2 separate regions of the Homo sapiens genome follow, and region 1 is linked to region 2. A link means that fine-mapping ties the variant in region 2 to the expression of a gene that starts in the linked region. Tissue or cell type: whole blood. Region 2 holds a variant in brackets; the other region holds the start of a gene. All regions are shown on one strand. Distances are from middle to middle.

Region 1 (8,106 bases), 81 kb before region 2:
ATTCCTTCTTCTATTTCTGTATATATTTCATACATAGCTATTTTGTATTCAAGCTGATTTTTCCAATTTCAGAAATCCTGGAAAGTCTGAATAATTGTTGCTTTTTCTAGATTCTCATTTGACGGTGTTCATTCCTCTGTGGTCATGAGCTCATATTTTTTGAAAAACCTAGAGGCCTAAGTTGAGGATGCCTTCTTCAGAGATGATTGTGTTTGTTTCCTTTGGGATCCAGATGATGCTCCTGACCTGGGACCACTTTGACCCCTTCTAAGCTCCCCTGGTTGATTTTCTAGTCCCTGGTCCAGCTCAGCCCTATTGCCACGGGTCCAAGGCTTCGTCAGCTGGTTGAAATGCTGAAATGGGATTTGCCTTTGGGCCACCTTTGCCTTTCAGGTACGTTCACTGCTCTGCTCAGATATTAGGTACTTTTTAGAAGGGGTTAGGAGTGCTTGGAGAATTTTTATTCTTCTATTGTGAAACGTGACAAAAAATATGTTTTGTGCATGCTCTACTTGTTTTAAAACAGAAGAGTTCTTCAGAAGGAATAAATGCTGTTTGTCCTCTTTTTGTTTTCTCTCTCTTTCCTTCCTTCCTTTCTCTTTCTCTTTCTTTTGGGAAACCTACCTTTCCTCATTCTGAAATATCATTTTTCTGAGGGATCTCCTACTACTTCCCTGACTTTTCTTTTTTCAGTCTGTCTCTTCCTCACCCCTACTCTTTCTTTCTCCACTCTTTAGAGGATGGAGTTTTCCAGAATCCCATCCCTTCTTTCTTCTTACTGTTTATTTCATCTATATCCATGATTTCATCCACAGTATCCCAACATATCTGTATTTCTAGCTCTAAAAGAACCCTAAGTTGCAAATCTATATTACAAACTCCCTTCTTGTAATCTGCATAAGGATTTTTCTCAATTCAAAAATTTCAAAACTGGGCTTGTTATCTCTCACATCCTCCATCCCTAAATCAGCTCCTCCTCTATTATTTTCCAACTTGGTCATGGATACCACTATCCACCAGTCATCTAAGCCTGATGGTCCTGCCGATTTTAACTCCTAAACATCCCTTGAATTCTGTCTTTCTCTGTCCTATTTCCATCATCACTGCTAGAGTTGGATCCTTATCATTTCTTCCCAGTCAGTTGGGAGAAAGACTCCCAATCTTTCTCTTGCCTCCAGACTTGCAGCTCAAATCCACCCTACCCACTGCTCCTCTTGGGATCTTTCTGAAATGCAAATGTGAACATGTCACTCTTCTGTGGGAGATTCTTCACTGGTCTTCCTCATTGACACATGTTAAAGCTTAGGCTTCATAACTGGGTATATAAAGCTGCTATGACCTATCTAACTTATGCTTTTTACTTTGCCTGCCTACTTCACTTATTTATTGGAGAGCAATGAATCTTTTATTTATTATTATTATTATTGAGACGGAGTTTTGCTTTTGCTGCCCAGGCTGGAGTGCAATGGTGTGATCTCAGCTCACTGCAACCTCCGCCTCCTGGGTTCAAGCTATTCTCCTACCTCAGCCTCCCAAGTAGCTGGGATTACAGGCATGCGCCACCACGCCTGGCTAATTTTTTGTAGTTTTAGCATTTTAGTAGAGATGGGGTTTCTCCAGGTTGGTCAGACTGGTCTCAAACTCCCGACCTCAGGTGATCCGCCCACCTCGGCCTCCCAAAGTGCTGGGATTACAGGCATGAGCCACCGCGCCTGGCCATTTATTATTATTATTATTTTGAGACAGAGTCTTGCTCAGTCACCCAGGCTGGAGTGCAGTGGCACGTTCTCCGCTCACTGCAACCTCTGCCTCCTGGGTTCAAGTGATTCTCCTGCCTCAGCCTCCCGAGTAGCTGGGATTACAGGCATGTGCCACCACACCCAGATATTTTTTGTATTTTTAGTAGAGATGGGGTTTCACCATGTTGGCCAGGCTGGTCTTGAACTCCTGACCTCAGGTGAGCCACTCACCTGGGCCTCCCAAAGTGCTGGGATTACAGGCATGAGCCACTGAGCCCCGTCTGTTTTTAAATGTTTATTTCAATAGCTCTTGGGGTACAAGTGGTTTTTTGTTACATAGATGAATTATATAGTGGTGAATTCTGAGATTTTAGTGCACCCATCATCTGAGTAGTGTATATGGTACCTAGTGCATAGTTTTTTTTATCCCTAGGCTCTCTCCCATCCTCCCCTTTCTGAGTCTCCAAAGTCCATTATTTCACTGTGTATGCCTTTGCATACTCATAGCTTGGCTTTTGCTTATAAGTGAGAACATACAGTTTTTGGTTTTCCACGCCTGTATTACTTTGCGTAGAATAAGGACCTCCCACTCTTCCAAGTTGTTGCAAAAGACATTATTTCATTCTTTTTTTGTGACTGAGTAGCAGCCTATGGTGTATATATACCACATTTTCTTTATCCACTCATTAGTCAATGGGCACTTAGATTGGTTCCACATCTTTGCAATTGTGAATTGTGCTGCCATAAACATACGCGTGAAAGCCTACTTCACTTTAAGCTGTGAGGGCCACAGGCATGTCTGTCGTGTCTACCTTGGCGCTATTCTTGGTCCCAAGCCCACATCCTGACACCTAATAATTACTAACTTGCCGCACCACTGCTTCATCACTTATGTTTCTGTTTCGTAGACCCTTTTTGCCAGCCAATCTGAACTATTTGCAGTAACACAAGTGTGCCTTCCTCTCTAAATTCTAGACTAGTTACAATTTACCCATTTATTCACACATTCAGTCATTTTTCTTGGAATTACCACTATCTAACTCTGTGGCTGATACTAGGCAGGTTCTCTGAATGAATAAATGGAAACAAACTTAGAAGGGCAGCTCAAGAGGTAATACATACCCAAGGAATTGACCAATTTAAGGAACTGCATACAAGAACAGTTTTTCCCCAGGCACAAGTAAACAAGTGCAAGTATGAGGCAAACAGACTTCCTTCTCTTGCTCTGCCCGGTCTGGGAACCATATTTTAATTAATCAAGACTTTGTAGAATGAATCGGAACAAAACCAAAACAAAATAAAGGGCAAACAAACCAACTTCTGACAAAGACCTGACTGAAAAGGTAATCAACTCCCCTAAACCCCAAGTCTAAATGGCACACTTGCTGCAGCTCAGCCGACAGTCCCCCGGCTCCATGAAGCCCCGCCCCGGGGAAGGCGGGGCCTGCGGGAATTGGCGGGGATTTCCCGCGAGGCCACGCCCTCTCTGGGCCGGCCGTAGGCCCGCCTGCTGCCCCCGCCGTTTCCTAGGAGATGAAACACACAAGACGCCGGAGCTTCACAAGGGAGCGAACGAGGTAAGCAGCAGGCGCGGACAGGTAATCCCCAGCGGGCTGCAGGGCCACCACCCTCTGTCCGACCCAGCCGGAGCCCGACCTGCGAGGCTGGCCGGGCATGTCCCCTCGGCGCCCTGTGCTACCAGGGCCAATCTCCGCCCGGAGACCGGTCCCTGACGCCGGTAGGGGAAGGACTGGAGGGAGGAGGGTCCCCGGAGGGGCGGAGCGGGCGGGAGTGGTCAGCCCGAGGGAAGGCGGTCGGTGTCTCCCAGACCTCTTGACCACTTTCCCGCCTCCTGGACCGCGGGGGCCGGCCTGGCGTGGGAGGATGACGGCCGGGCGTCCCTTAGCCTGAGACCCCCGCCCCTAAACTCTCCTCCGGGATCTCCCACCTCTGCTCCCCTGCTGCTTGGGCTGGCGGTGGAAACTGTTTTTAGGACAGAGAGGCAGGATTGGGTCTCAGGGAGGCAGCGGAACTGAGTTCAGAACTGTTGCAAAATCTAAAAGGAGGGAGAAAAACAGGAATTAGGTCCGACTCCAGCCCTCGCTGGTGCATCCCAAAGGACGCTCAGGTGAAAGTGGAATTCCGCACACCCCCGTCCCCCCCAACGGCGCCGGACTCCCGGCGCCCGGGGACGCCCCCTCCTTCCACCACGCGGTCCCTGGAGCCTTTTAAGAGCCCTGGTTTGCAGAGTCGGATCAGAAAGTGTGTGACGAAAACTGTCCCTTTTCTGCAAGTAATCCGTTTTAATTTAGGGACAGGTCGAGAGTGCGGTGTCGAGAGCAATAAAACTGGTTTTTAGTGGTTAGTAATCTCAATCCTACAAGGAAAGAGCTGTATGCAAATGTGGTTAGATAATCGTTTAAAAGAAACAGACATTTGTTCTAATGATAACGGAATTCTCAAAGAGGGAAGCCAAAGTTATCTGACTTTATTTATTCAGAAACACAACCCATTAAGTGAAATAATGGTGAAAACAAAAGTGACTTTCCAGCTTTTCGATCGGGCCCCGCCTCCCCGGCCCTTCAATTCCCGAGGCTTGACCGGGAGGGAGAAAGTTCCCCCAACCGCGCCACCGCCTGCTTCCACTGCAGGCACCGGGCAGGACGTTTAATCTCTTCGTCGGGGTGGACTTTTTTTGTGTATAAGCTTTGAAATAATTTGTGAATATGAGCACAGAGAACTGTGCTTTTATATTTTAAGATACAGTCTTTGTTTTCCCATTGTAATAGCTCATTTAATTTCTGTAAAACTTCGACTTGGTTAGTTTGGGATCTTTTTTTCCTGCGTTGCTTTTTAAAGAGTTTGGTGACTTTTAAAACGTTAATTACTCTTTTGTTGTGTATTAGAAGCGTTAAGCCAGCCTCGGAGTGACATAATATGTTCTAGAAAGCCACGTTGAAGACATCCAAGCCTTATCTCTTCAGTTTTTGGCAGACGCTTGTTTTACCCTTCATTTGCCCTCTTTGCTAATCTTCTTTAATCCTATCTGAATCTCTTATTAGCTGGCAAAAGCTGTTGAGAGTAAAGGCTATATTTACAACAATTGTGCACTTAGAGAAACGGTAATTATGAACTTAGATTAAAAAGTTGAAAACTAGAATGAGAGATAAATTATAAGGGTATTTATTTTTGTGTAGGTCTATAATTAAGCCTCTAAATAAGCATCTTTTTCTTTAACCCATAGGAAGGTCAATAAATGTTATAGCTTGATTGTAGAAAATTCCAAGTTTTTAACAATTCTGTTAAATTGAGGATGATAGTTATATTTACTTGGGTTTTTTGTTGCATATGTATCATATCTATATATATTCATGTACATAAGAAACTGTGTTAATATATTCCTATTTTGTAGATTAGTTTTCCATAGGTCAACAGAGAAGAATATATGTAACTTGTAGAGAAATATTATTGTGCGTGAACTGGAGAACCATGGGAAGCCTGTGTTTAAGGAACATAGACTGCTTTTTGATTAGTAATCAGTAGTTGCTATGCCACATTGATAAAAGTAGTTGCTTATGTGCTATCAGGGAGCAGGGACATGGAATAATGATTTTTTAAAAGCTTTACCTTGATGTCTATGTCTCTACATTAGACAATTGTATGTTCAGGGGATAGAAGGAACAGTTGCAATGATCAGCGTCTCACCCTGGGCAGCTGTTGATTTTGTAATTAATGTAGTTCAAAAGAAGCCTTTCCAAAGTTTTTTCTTAGGGAGCGCAGTATGTAAAGTTGTTTTACTTAAAGGTTAGGTAGGGCTTAAATGGGACAGATCCTCACAGAACCACTAATCTGACCTTTTAAAAATCTATGTCACGTCCGTAATCCTCAACACTCCACCCCTCAAACAGAAAGGAGCTGGGAAATGGTCGTGTTCCTTGCTTATTCTTCCCTCAATATAAGTACACCCTATCCTATAGCCATCATCCGTTGAAAGACAATTGGTGTTGCCGGTGTTTATTCAGAAGTTGATTGGTTAGGCTTGGAATGAAGTTGCCAAAATAGCCACTCGCAAAGAGACTGTGCACGCAGGCTTGGGTCGAAAGTCATCAGTGACTGAATGCTCTATTGTGCTGATAGTGCTGGTGCAGCTTCAGGTCACCCTCCCACCCCAGGGCGGTGGTGATGGGGGTGGCTGATGGCCTTAATAGTGGAAGAGAGAGGTGTAATTAATTCTTAATTTTTAGATTGTTGGGCCAATGAAGGTGATTTTTTTGTCACTCTTTGTGTTTCCACTTCCTGAATAACACTCGCTACCATCATTACCATGCAACCAGAGGCAGCTCCCTCTTCCATTCCCTTCTCAAGTCATATGTCCTTTTTCAGAATTGTCTGCATTACTTTTCTACCTTTTAGACCCTCAAATGCTTGTCCTTGGTTAGGTGTTAACATGAAAATAATTTGGTTAAAAGAAAAGATGATGCTATCATACCATTATGTTTCTGAATTAAATAATTTTCATGGCTGGGCGCAGTGGCTCACGCCTATAAACCCCAGCACTTTGGGAGGCCGAGGCAGGTGGATCACATGAGGTCAGGAGTTCAAGACCAGCCTGGCCAACGTGGTAAAACCCTGTCTCTACTAAAAATACAGAAATTAGCCGGGCATGGTGGCACGCGCCTGTAATCCCAGCTACTCAGGAGGCTGAGGCAGGAGAGTCCCTTGAACCTGGGAGGCGGAGGTTGCAGTGAGCAGAGATAACGCCACCACACTCCAGCCTGGGCATCCGAGCTGTAGGAGATTGGTCAGGGTGGTGGGAAAAATCGTAGAAAGATGCAAACCTTCTTGGAAGGCCAGGGGTTTGCAAAGCTTCAAAAGAAAATTTGGCTGAAGGCAGCTGAATTCTCTTAAGAGCTTAGGTTAGATAACAAGGGGATGTAAAGAAACTAATCTAGATAAGTTAGTTTACTTAGGCCTCAGAACCTGGCCTTTAATCATCCAGACGCAGGACTGCGTGGGGCGGGGGAGCGGTGCGACCATGTTAATTACCCACAAGTGTGTTAACTCAAAGCCTTTGTCATTAAATCTGTGCTGAATAAATGCCCACAGCGCCAGCTGAGCAGGGCCACGGTTTACAGCACCCTCCTGGGGTCTGTGTGCTGCCCGGTCCCCTAGCCCGCTCTTTCACTGGATACCTGTGTCTGAGTGCATTCTTTGATCTGTCATTCAGCCAGGGTCTGCGGGTCGGACCTGGCACAGAGTGAGACTCTGTCTCAAACAATAATAATAATAATAATAATAATTTTCATGAGAGGAGCACCACCTAGATTCTTTCTCCCTTAACCATTCAAGTTCTAAGGTCTCACTCTTTCCCTTCACTGTTTCTGTTATTTTTCACTGGTCTGAATGACCCAGATGTAGCATTAGGGTTTAGTCAGGATATGGAGTAGTCCCACTTCACTTTCCAGGTAGTCAGCAATATCTTAGTGTTTGAGTGAAGAGCTGCATTAGGAATCTTAAGGTGGAGGTTGGGGTAGGTGGCTTGAGTTGTGGAGCTTAGTCTGTGTGGTTTTGGAGCAAAGAGGATGATTTCTTTAGCCTCATTAGGGATAGTAAGAGCTGGCACCAGTTCATAAGAATGGCTTGTTTAGAAGTTGGAGACGACCCTGAAAAACCAACAACATCAAGCCAAATGCAACTATTGGATTGACTCCATCGTTGATTCTCTAGTTGATCCTAGACAGGTCATTTAATCCTTCCATGTTTTTATTTTATGATCTTACTGTCATAAGGAACATGATGGCCTTTTGTGCAAATATATTCTCTTTATGCTTACTTAATCAGAAAGAATCAGTAAACCTAGAGATCACATATTTCCTAAAAGAGATAGATATATGTCACCTTAAATAGGCTAGCTAGAAAAGAGTGTACAGCAATTGAATATGCTGGTGATAAATTGCAAAATACTGATTTAATAAAATCCTAAATGAGAAGAAATATATTTTAGTCCATGTTTTGTTTAACGTAGTACAAAACAAAACAACCCAAAAGATTTTTCCAAATTATATTTGCTTATACAGATAAAGGCAAAATGAAGAAAAGCAAATTCATGTTTTGATTAGGAACCGTGCAGAGAGAGAGACTGCCTTTCTCTATATTAACACCTTAATATTTGGAATCAGTGTCTATGAATAAGGTGACAATGACTTACAAAACTATTCTTTTTCAGGCAAATGGGGAACCATTTGCTGGTACTTATGATTATTAGCTCGGGCTTAATCTGACAAAAAGGAAGAAACCCCTAAATAGAGATGGAATCTGCTGTCATGTTCTCTTTTTCAAGATCCTGGCCATGGAGTTAGCTAGCCTA
Region 2 (8,106 bases):
AATGGGTTCACTTTGCCCTTTGCCTAGACAGAGCTGAGTTATCAAGACAGGGAATTGCAATAGAGAAAGAGCACACGCAGAGCCAGCTGTGCAGGAGACTGGAGTTTTATTGGTACTCAAATCAGTCTCCCAGAGCATTCAAGGATTGAAGTGTTTAAGGGTTACTTGGTGTGCCAGGGGCAGCCAGGTGACTCAGGAGTGCTGACTGGTCCGGTGGGAGATTAAGTCATAGGGAGTGCAAGCTGTTGTCTTGCACTGAGTCAGTTCCTGGATGGGGGCCACAAGATCAGATGAGCCAGTTTATCAATTTGGGCGGTGCCAGGTGATCCATCAAGTGCAGGGTCTGTAAGAGAAAGTGCTCCTAACCGAAATTAGCCGGGAAGCCTCTCAGGTTTTAAGTAAAGAAAACCTGTCTTTGACTACAAAGCCACGTTTCATGTTTCTTTCTTCTTTCTTTAACTCTTACAGGCATGACTATGGTCAGTGAGCCAATTCTAGTCCATTGCCTGTTTTTGTGCAGAGAGCAAGCTAAGAATAGATTTGCATTTTGAAATGGTTGAAAAAAATCAAAATAAGACTATTTTGTGATATGTAGAAATCATATGAAATCCAGATTTCAGGGCCCATACATAGTTTTATTGGAACAGTCACACTCGTTTATTGATTGGCTGTGGCTGCTTTCATTCTACAAAGGCAGAGGTGAACAGCTGGGACACAGATGGCCTGAGAAGCCTAAAATATTCACTATCTGGCCCTTTACAGAACAAGTTTGCAGACTTCCAGCTTAATGTGTCAAAGATTTTTACAAAGTCCAATTACACAAAGCCACCACTAGTGGGAGGATAAATTGGTGCATCCTCTTCTGAAGGCAATCACAATTTTAAATGCTGAGATGCTCTGACTCAGCATTTAGGAATGTAACCTACAGATTCCTTTGCACATGTTCACGGGGATTTCCATGAGGATATTTCTTGGTACACCATCCTTTGTAATATCAAAGGCCTCAGGGGATCTGCCCACCTCAGCCTCCCAAAGTGTTGGGATTACAAGCATGAGCCACTGCTCCCGGCTATCAAAGGCATTAAACAAGACATATTTCTATCAGTAGGGGAATAGTAAACTAAATAGTAATCATCCGTACAACTTAAAAGCCATTAAAAAGAATTAGATCTTGGCCTGGTGCGGTGGCTCATGCCTGTAATTCCAGCACTTTGGGAGGCAAGACAGGTGGATCACCTGAGGTCAGTTCAAGACCAGCCTGGCCAACATGGTGAAACCCCATCTCTACTAAAAATACAAAAAATTAGCTGGGTGTGGTGGTGCACACCTGAAATCCCAGCTACTCAGGAGGGTAAGGCAGGAGAATCGCTTGAACCTGGGAGGTGGAGGTTGCAATGAGCTGAGATCGCACCATTGCACCCCAGCTTGGGCAACAAGAGCCATACTCCATCTCAAAAAAAAAAAAAAAAAAAAAAAAAAGAATTAGATCTCTAAGGAAAGGGTTGAACCCAGTTATGCTACATAGTTTCATGCCTTTGAGGCACTGTATATATTGCTCGCTCTGAGACATTTGCCCCGTCCTTACCTATGAATTTCTCAGACAACTCACAAAAGGAGTTCATGTCAACTGATTCATGCATCAACTGACAAGACTCAGCTTAACTGTTGGTTCCTTTGTGAAGCCTACCTTGACTCCCTCAACAGAAATGCCCACTCCCCTCCTTGTGCCCCCACAGTAATATGGATCTACCTCCATCATACACTTATTTCTATACTGCCTTTGTTTAGATGTCCACCTCCTCCACCAGACTCCAGAAGGGCAAGCACCATGGCTTGTTCTTTGCACTGCTAGGACCCAGCACAACCCTTAGGCAGTAAATACTCAGGGATCTTTGCAGAGAAGCAGGGATGAGGGCACTTGGCAAGGGCTATGAAGATCTCCTGCCTCTCATCTGTGGGCAGCCTTAGAATTTTCCAGGCTGATTGCTGGGGATCAAATAGTCACATGGGGATCTACTTGGCACCTAAACTAATTCCCACATTCAGGGAACCTTGTCATTCATGAGGAGCCAGGTCCTCCTCTAGGACTGAAGGTGGCAAAAATGTGTGCCCTTTGGAAACACTCCATGACACATGAAAAAATGGCCAACGTTGAGACTCAAAATCTTAGCTATGGAAGCCTGGGAGGATGATAGCTTTGGATGATCTGTGGCCTTCTGATGCCTCTACCACTGCAACACAAGAGCCCTTAATTGTCCAGAGTCCTATAAAAAAGGATGGAAAACTAGGACCACCATCCAGGGGCTTATGCAAATACATAAAGTGTCTGAATTATACTCTAAACTCAACCAGTATCAGTTAGGGTAAATCAGTAGCAAATATCTTTTTTTTTTTTTTTGAGACAGAGTCTCACCCTGTCGCCCAGGTTGGAGTGCAGTGGCGTGATCTCGGCTCGCTGCAACCACAGCCTCCTGGGTTCAAGCAATTCTCCTGCCTCAGCCTCCTGAATAGCTGGGATTACAGGCATGAGCCACCACACCCAGCTAATTTTTGAATTTTTAGTAGAGACAGGGTTTCACCATGTTGGCCAGGCTGGTCTCAAACTCCTGACCTCAGGTGATCCACCCATCTCGGCCTCCCAAAGTGTTGGCACTACAGGCGTGAGCCACCGCGCCCAGCTCCTTACCTTTTTAAAGAGGGAATGAAAACTAAAACAAAGGGCACCAGATTGAGTTAATTCTTCATGTTGAAACATGAATAAAGTGAACTAAAAACGTACCAGTATCCAGTAAATGTGTCCAATGTAGAGCCCAAACTAGGTGATTCAAGCTCTAGATGGGTCTTCTAGTTTCACAATTATATATGAACTAATTAACAAAAAAAACCACTTTTTTTCTTCTTCTTTTTTTGCTACACAGTCCTAAATCTTAGAAATCCTCAGTGGCCATGCTCATTACCCCAGCACTTTGGGAGGCCAAGGAGAGAGAATCGCATGAGACCAGGAGTTTGATAGCAGCCTGAGCAACAGAGCAAGACCCCATCTCTACAAAAAAATAAAATAAATTAGCGAGGTGGTATGCACCAGTAGTACCAGCTATTCAGGAGGCTGAAGTGGGATGACTGAACCCAAGAGTTTGAGGCTACAGTGAGATATGATTGTACCACTGCCCTCCAGCCTAGGTGACAGAGAAAGACCCTGTCTCTTAAAAAACAAACAAAAAAATCCTCAGAGATCATTTTTGAAACAAGCTTCAATGCAATGTACAATCAAATAACTTTCCTTGGTCCTTAAATTACTCAAAATAGGTAATTTCTAAATATCAACAAAATACTTTCAAGTTTCTATATCTAGCAACATCTCATTCTATGAACTAGACCAGCTCTGGCAATGAAGACACCATAGGAAATATTATTTATAGTAAACTTTATTTTCATTGATATTTCACTTAACATAATTTCAAAGTCAGTCTGTGGTCTAAGATGAGCAAAAGAAAAGATATTCTAAATCTCTCAAGAGATTTTTTTTCACACTGTTCCTCTGAGCAGGGAATGGGGTTTCAGGGTTCTCAATGTCAACACCTAACATTTTACCCTTGAGATTTACCTATAGATACAGAAAGAGATAAAATCAATATACAAGAATCGATCTCTATGATGGTCTCAATAAGCTCATGTTACATGCTCACCACCTCTGTAGGGTTATAATGGTAACAACTGATTTTCCACCCCTCCGCCAAATTTGGTGTCTTTTTTTTTTTAGGTAAAATGTCAGATGCAAAAATGCTGCACTTATTTCTCTTAATACATTGAAAATAGTGGAAGATGCAGATTTTTAATCCTTCATGAGTCCAAGCTGGAACATGACTTCTGCTAATCAGATGTCATCAACATACGAACTCCAACTTTGGCGGCCATCAGCAAACTGTTTAAAACAAGTAAGATAGAAAACATCAGGTAAAGGATAGAACAGGCAACTATGTTTTTAAGGAACTAAACTCTGCAGGTTCCTCACAACTGTGTGGGGGAGGAGGTACTAAGGCAAGAGTGGTCAGAGGTAAAATTTCCATCCCTGGGGGAACCAGAGAAAAAGCAAGCCAAGGGACAGTTTCACTGAGGTCTTAAAATAGCACACATGAGCTAGATCCTAATCCAACTGCCAGTAATTTGAAGAGATGAAGAAATGGAGGCAAGAGA[A/G]AGCAAGGCCTCCCCACCATCACAGATCTGATTTATGGTAGACTCCAGCCTCTCAGTTTACTGTTCTAGACCTTGCTCCATACTGACTCTTTTGCTTCAGGTATAAAATATTATACTGGCAGCATCACGACTATGATCAGAGTAGAGTATGTAATCTTTCTTGAAAACAGGATTTTAAAAATTCCCCTGCCTTCAGGATGTCTTTATCATACTTAACAAGTGAACTTTTTTTTTTTTTTGAGACAGACTCTCACTCATTGTTGCCCAGGCTGCAGTGCAGCAGCACGATTTCAACTTACTGCAACCTCCGCCTCCCCAGTTCAAGCAAGTCTCCTGCCTCGACCTCCCGAGTAGCTGGGATTACAGGCGTGCACCACCGCACCCACCTAATTTTTGTATTTTTCATAGAGAGGAGTTTCACCATGTTGGCCAGGCTGGTCTCAAACTCCTGACCTCAAGTGATATGCCCGCCATGGCCTCCCACTGTGCTTGGATTACAGGTGTGAGCCACCGTGCCTGGCCTACAACTACATTTTTTAAAAACCACAATTTGGTTTAGGTATTATAATCAAAATTAGAAAACAGGATTCAATCAAAATTTCCTTTTAGCAAAATTTTCTACAAAAGACACCTACACACCTAAGAAATATGGGACCCCCACACATCCTCCGCAAGTCACACAAAAGGCTGCAGTCATAGCTTTGCAATAAAACTTCTGCCACCATATAGGAAGGAGCTAGGACCAGAGAACAAAGCCATCTCCACAGTGAATGGATATACTCATGTCATTTGACATTAAATCAACTATTGTTTTTGAAGCATCTCCTATTAGTGTATAAGTCAAACGTCAGTTGATGCATAGCATCAGATACTCTGAAACAAGTAAGGTTTTGAATGCATAAAGTATTCTGGGCAATAAACTGAACTCTACATGGTAAAGAAGAGTAATAGAATGAAAGTACCTGGCACCTGCAATTAAACCTACAGGCATGAATTTTCCATAGTAGTAGGATCTCATTCCCATAACACCAACAAAAGTAACAGATGTAGCGGCTGAAAAAGATACAAAGAAGGGTCAAAACTCATTAGTCTTCTACGCAGGGGAATCAGAAGTAGACCAAGCCCCACCAATCTCTCAAGGCTCACGCCTCATCCTATGCTTATTCCTCCTTCCCCAAGTAGGGGAGATTACTAGCTGCCCACATCCTATGGGTCCAAATACCAATACTGGCCAAATAGGGCCCTTCACAGCCTGGGCCCTACCTGCCCTTCCAGCCTCATCTCTTACCACTTGTCTTCTGCAAAACCCACACTTTAGCCATCAATGTGTTAGTTTTCTCCAAAATGCTGTTGTTTCTCATGCCCTGCAGATGCTATCGCCCTGCAGACGCTATTTCCTCTACCCTGCATGCAATTCCCACTGGGTATCTGTCAAAGCACCTACTACATGTCAAGCGCTGTGCTAGGAGCTGGAGAATACAAAAGTAATCGTAACTGTCTTTGCCCTTTTACAATGCTTCAGGTCTGATGGGACAAGACTTTAAACAATCACACAAAGAAAAACAAGGTACAATGTGTGCTTCAGGTATAATTGATGCTACACAAAAAAGCTCAACAGGGGGATCAACCTATTCAGGGAGATCATGCTAGGCTTTTAGCCAAGGAAGTGAAGACTGACTGAGATCTGAAATTACAGCAGGCGTTAATAAGCTGAAGGATGGGAATGCCCTTTCCAGGCAGAGGGGACAGTATATGCAGAGGCCCTGTGGTGACAGGGAGCATGGCACATTCACCCTAAAAGGGCAGCGTGGCACAGAAGTCAAGATGCAGTTTGTGAGTAAGAGGCGCCAGACCACATAGAGCCTTGAAGGCCATACTAAGGATTGGGTTTTCATCATAAGAGCAATGAGAAGCTATTAAAGGATACTAAGCAGAGGGATGCATAAAAAGAGTTGCATTATTATTATTATTTTTTGAGACAGAGTCTCACTCTGCAACACACGCTGGAGTGCAGTGGCATGATCTCAGCTCACTACAACCTCTACCTCCCAGGTTCAAGCAATGCTGAAGCCTTTTTTAATTTTAGTGGAGACCGGGTTTCACCATGTTGCCCAGGGTGGTCTCCAACTCCTGAGCTCGGCAATCCGCCTGCCTTGGCCTCCCAAAGTGCTAGGACTACAGGCAGGAGCCACCGCAACCGGCCCAGAGTTGCATTTTGAAAGCGTAATTCTAGCTATACTATAGAGAACAAACTTCAGGGAAACTAGAGGGTACATGGGGATACCAGCTAAGGAACGTCCTTGGGAATGCAGGTAAGAAAGAGGGGATAACTGGGACTAGGACGATGGCTGTGCAGATGAAAAAGAGGACAACTCAGGATAAGGGCTAGAGGTAGTGTCGACAAGACCTGCTGATGAATTAGTCAGAAAGGGGGTGGTAGAAAGGAAAGAGAGCAATCAAGAACCGAATGGATGGAGAACAGAAGACAGGGGGAGTGTGTGGCCATGAGGTTAGGTCCGGGCAGATTCCTGGAGACATCTGAAGGAAAGTGGACAGATGAATACATGAGAGTCCAGCCTGGAGGAGAGAGAAATTTGTGTCATTTGTGTATCGGTGGAAATTAAAGGCATAGGCTTCAATGAAACTGTCAAGTGAGTAGACAAGAAGAGCCTGAAGAACTTCAATATCTAGTGGCCAAAAAGGAAAATAGGTTGCCAAAAGAGAATGAGAGGATAAAAAGGGAAACCAGGAGAATGGAAAATGATTGGTCAACCGTGCTGAGAACTGCTAAATGGCCAAGTAAAATGAGGACTGAAAAATGTACATTGGATTTTGTACAAACACAGGTCACTGGCAGCCTCAGGGAGAGCTATTCCACAAACACAGGGACAGAAACAGAGACTGAAATGGGCTGATCATGTGTGATGGGAGAGGAGGCATAAATGATCTTTATTTTTTGAAACGGAGTTTCGCTCTTGTTGCCCAGGCTGGAGTGCAGTGGCGTCATCTCGGCTCACCGCGACCTCCACTTCCCGGGTTCAAGCGATTCTCCTGCCTCAACCTCCTGAGTGGCTGGGATTACAGGTGACAGCCACCAAGCCCGGCTAATTTTGTATTTTTAGTAGAGATGGGGCTTTCTCCAAGTTGGTCAGACTGGTCTCCAACTCCCGACCTCAGGTGAGCCGCCTGCCTCGGTCTCCCAAAGTGCTGGGATTATACGAGTGAGCCACCGCGCCCAGCTGCATAAATGATCTTTAAGAAGTTTGTGGTCTACCGCCATACCACCCTGAATGTGCTAGATCTTGTCTGATCCCAGAAGCAAAGCAGGGTCGGTCCGGTCCTGCATGGTACTTGGATGGGAGACTACCACCCCACCTTCGGGGAAACACCAGGTGCTGTAGGCTTTTGGCCTCCCACTCCCTCCCTCTTTCCCTCTTGGCTGGGCGTGCTGCCTCATGGCTGTAATCCCAGCACTTCGGGAGTCCAAGGTGGGCAGATCACCTGAGGTCAGGCGTTCCAAACCAGCCCAGACAACATGGCAAAAACCCTGCACCTGCTAAAAATGCAAACGTTAGCCTGACATGGTGGGAGACACCTGTAATCCCAACTACCTAGAAGGCTGAGGCAGGAGAACCACTTGAATCCAAGAGGCGGAGGTTGCAGTGAGCCAAGACCGCGCCACTGCACTCTAGCCTGGGCAACACAGTGAGACTCCGTCTCAAAAAAAAAAAAAAAAAAAAAAGGTAGTTTATGAAGGGGAAGGAGACAAGCACATCTGAATATCAATGCGGGGATCCACCTAAAAGGAGGAATACAAATACAAGACAGGATCCTGGCCAGTGTAAAGGTCTGGAGACGGTCAGGGAGAAGACACCCAAAGCCCAGAGGAAGACACTGGTGTTGGAAAGGAGG

What was found. PIP is the estimated chance that this variant, and not a neighbour inherited with it, causes the effect.
Region 1: it holds the start of MAK, and the variant in region 2 is fine-mapped to the expression of MAK in whole blood (TOPMed, PIP above 0.99).

The regions. Positions count from the first base shown.
Region 1 is chr6:10,833,713-10,841,818 of GRCh38, reverse strand. MAK (male germ cell associated kinase) reads left to right here and starts at 3,280. Exons shown (of 15, transcript NM_001242957.3): 1 at 3,280-3,316. RefSeq lists enhancers at 2,598-2,757, 2,808-2,867 and a silencer at 3,088-3,217.
Region 2 is chr6:10,752,283-10,760,388 of GRCh38, reverse strand. It overlaps TMEM14B (transmembrane protein 14B), which reads right to left. Exons shown (of 6, transcript NM_030969.5): 5 at 5,157-5,247; 6 at 3,408-3,922. The coding sequence ends at 3,871. It also overlaps the pseudogene RNA5SP203. Among named protein-coding and RNA genes, the nearest start is that of TMEM14B, 8.5 kb to the right of the region's middle. The variant A/G (reference allele first, on the strand shown) is at 4,195.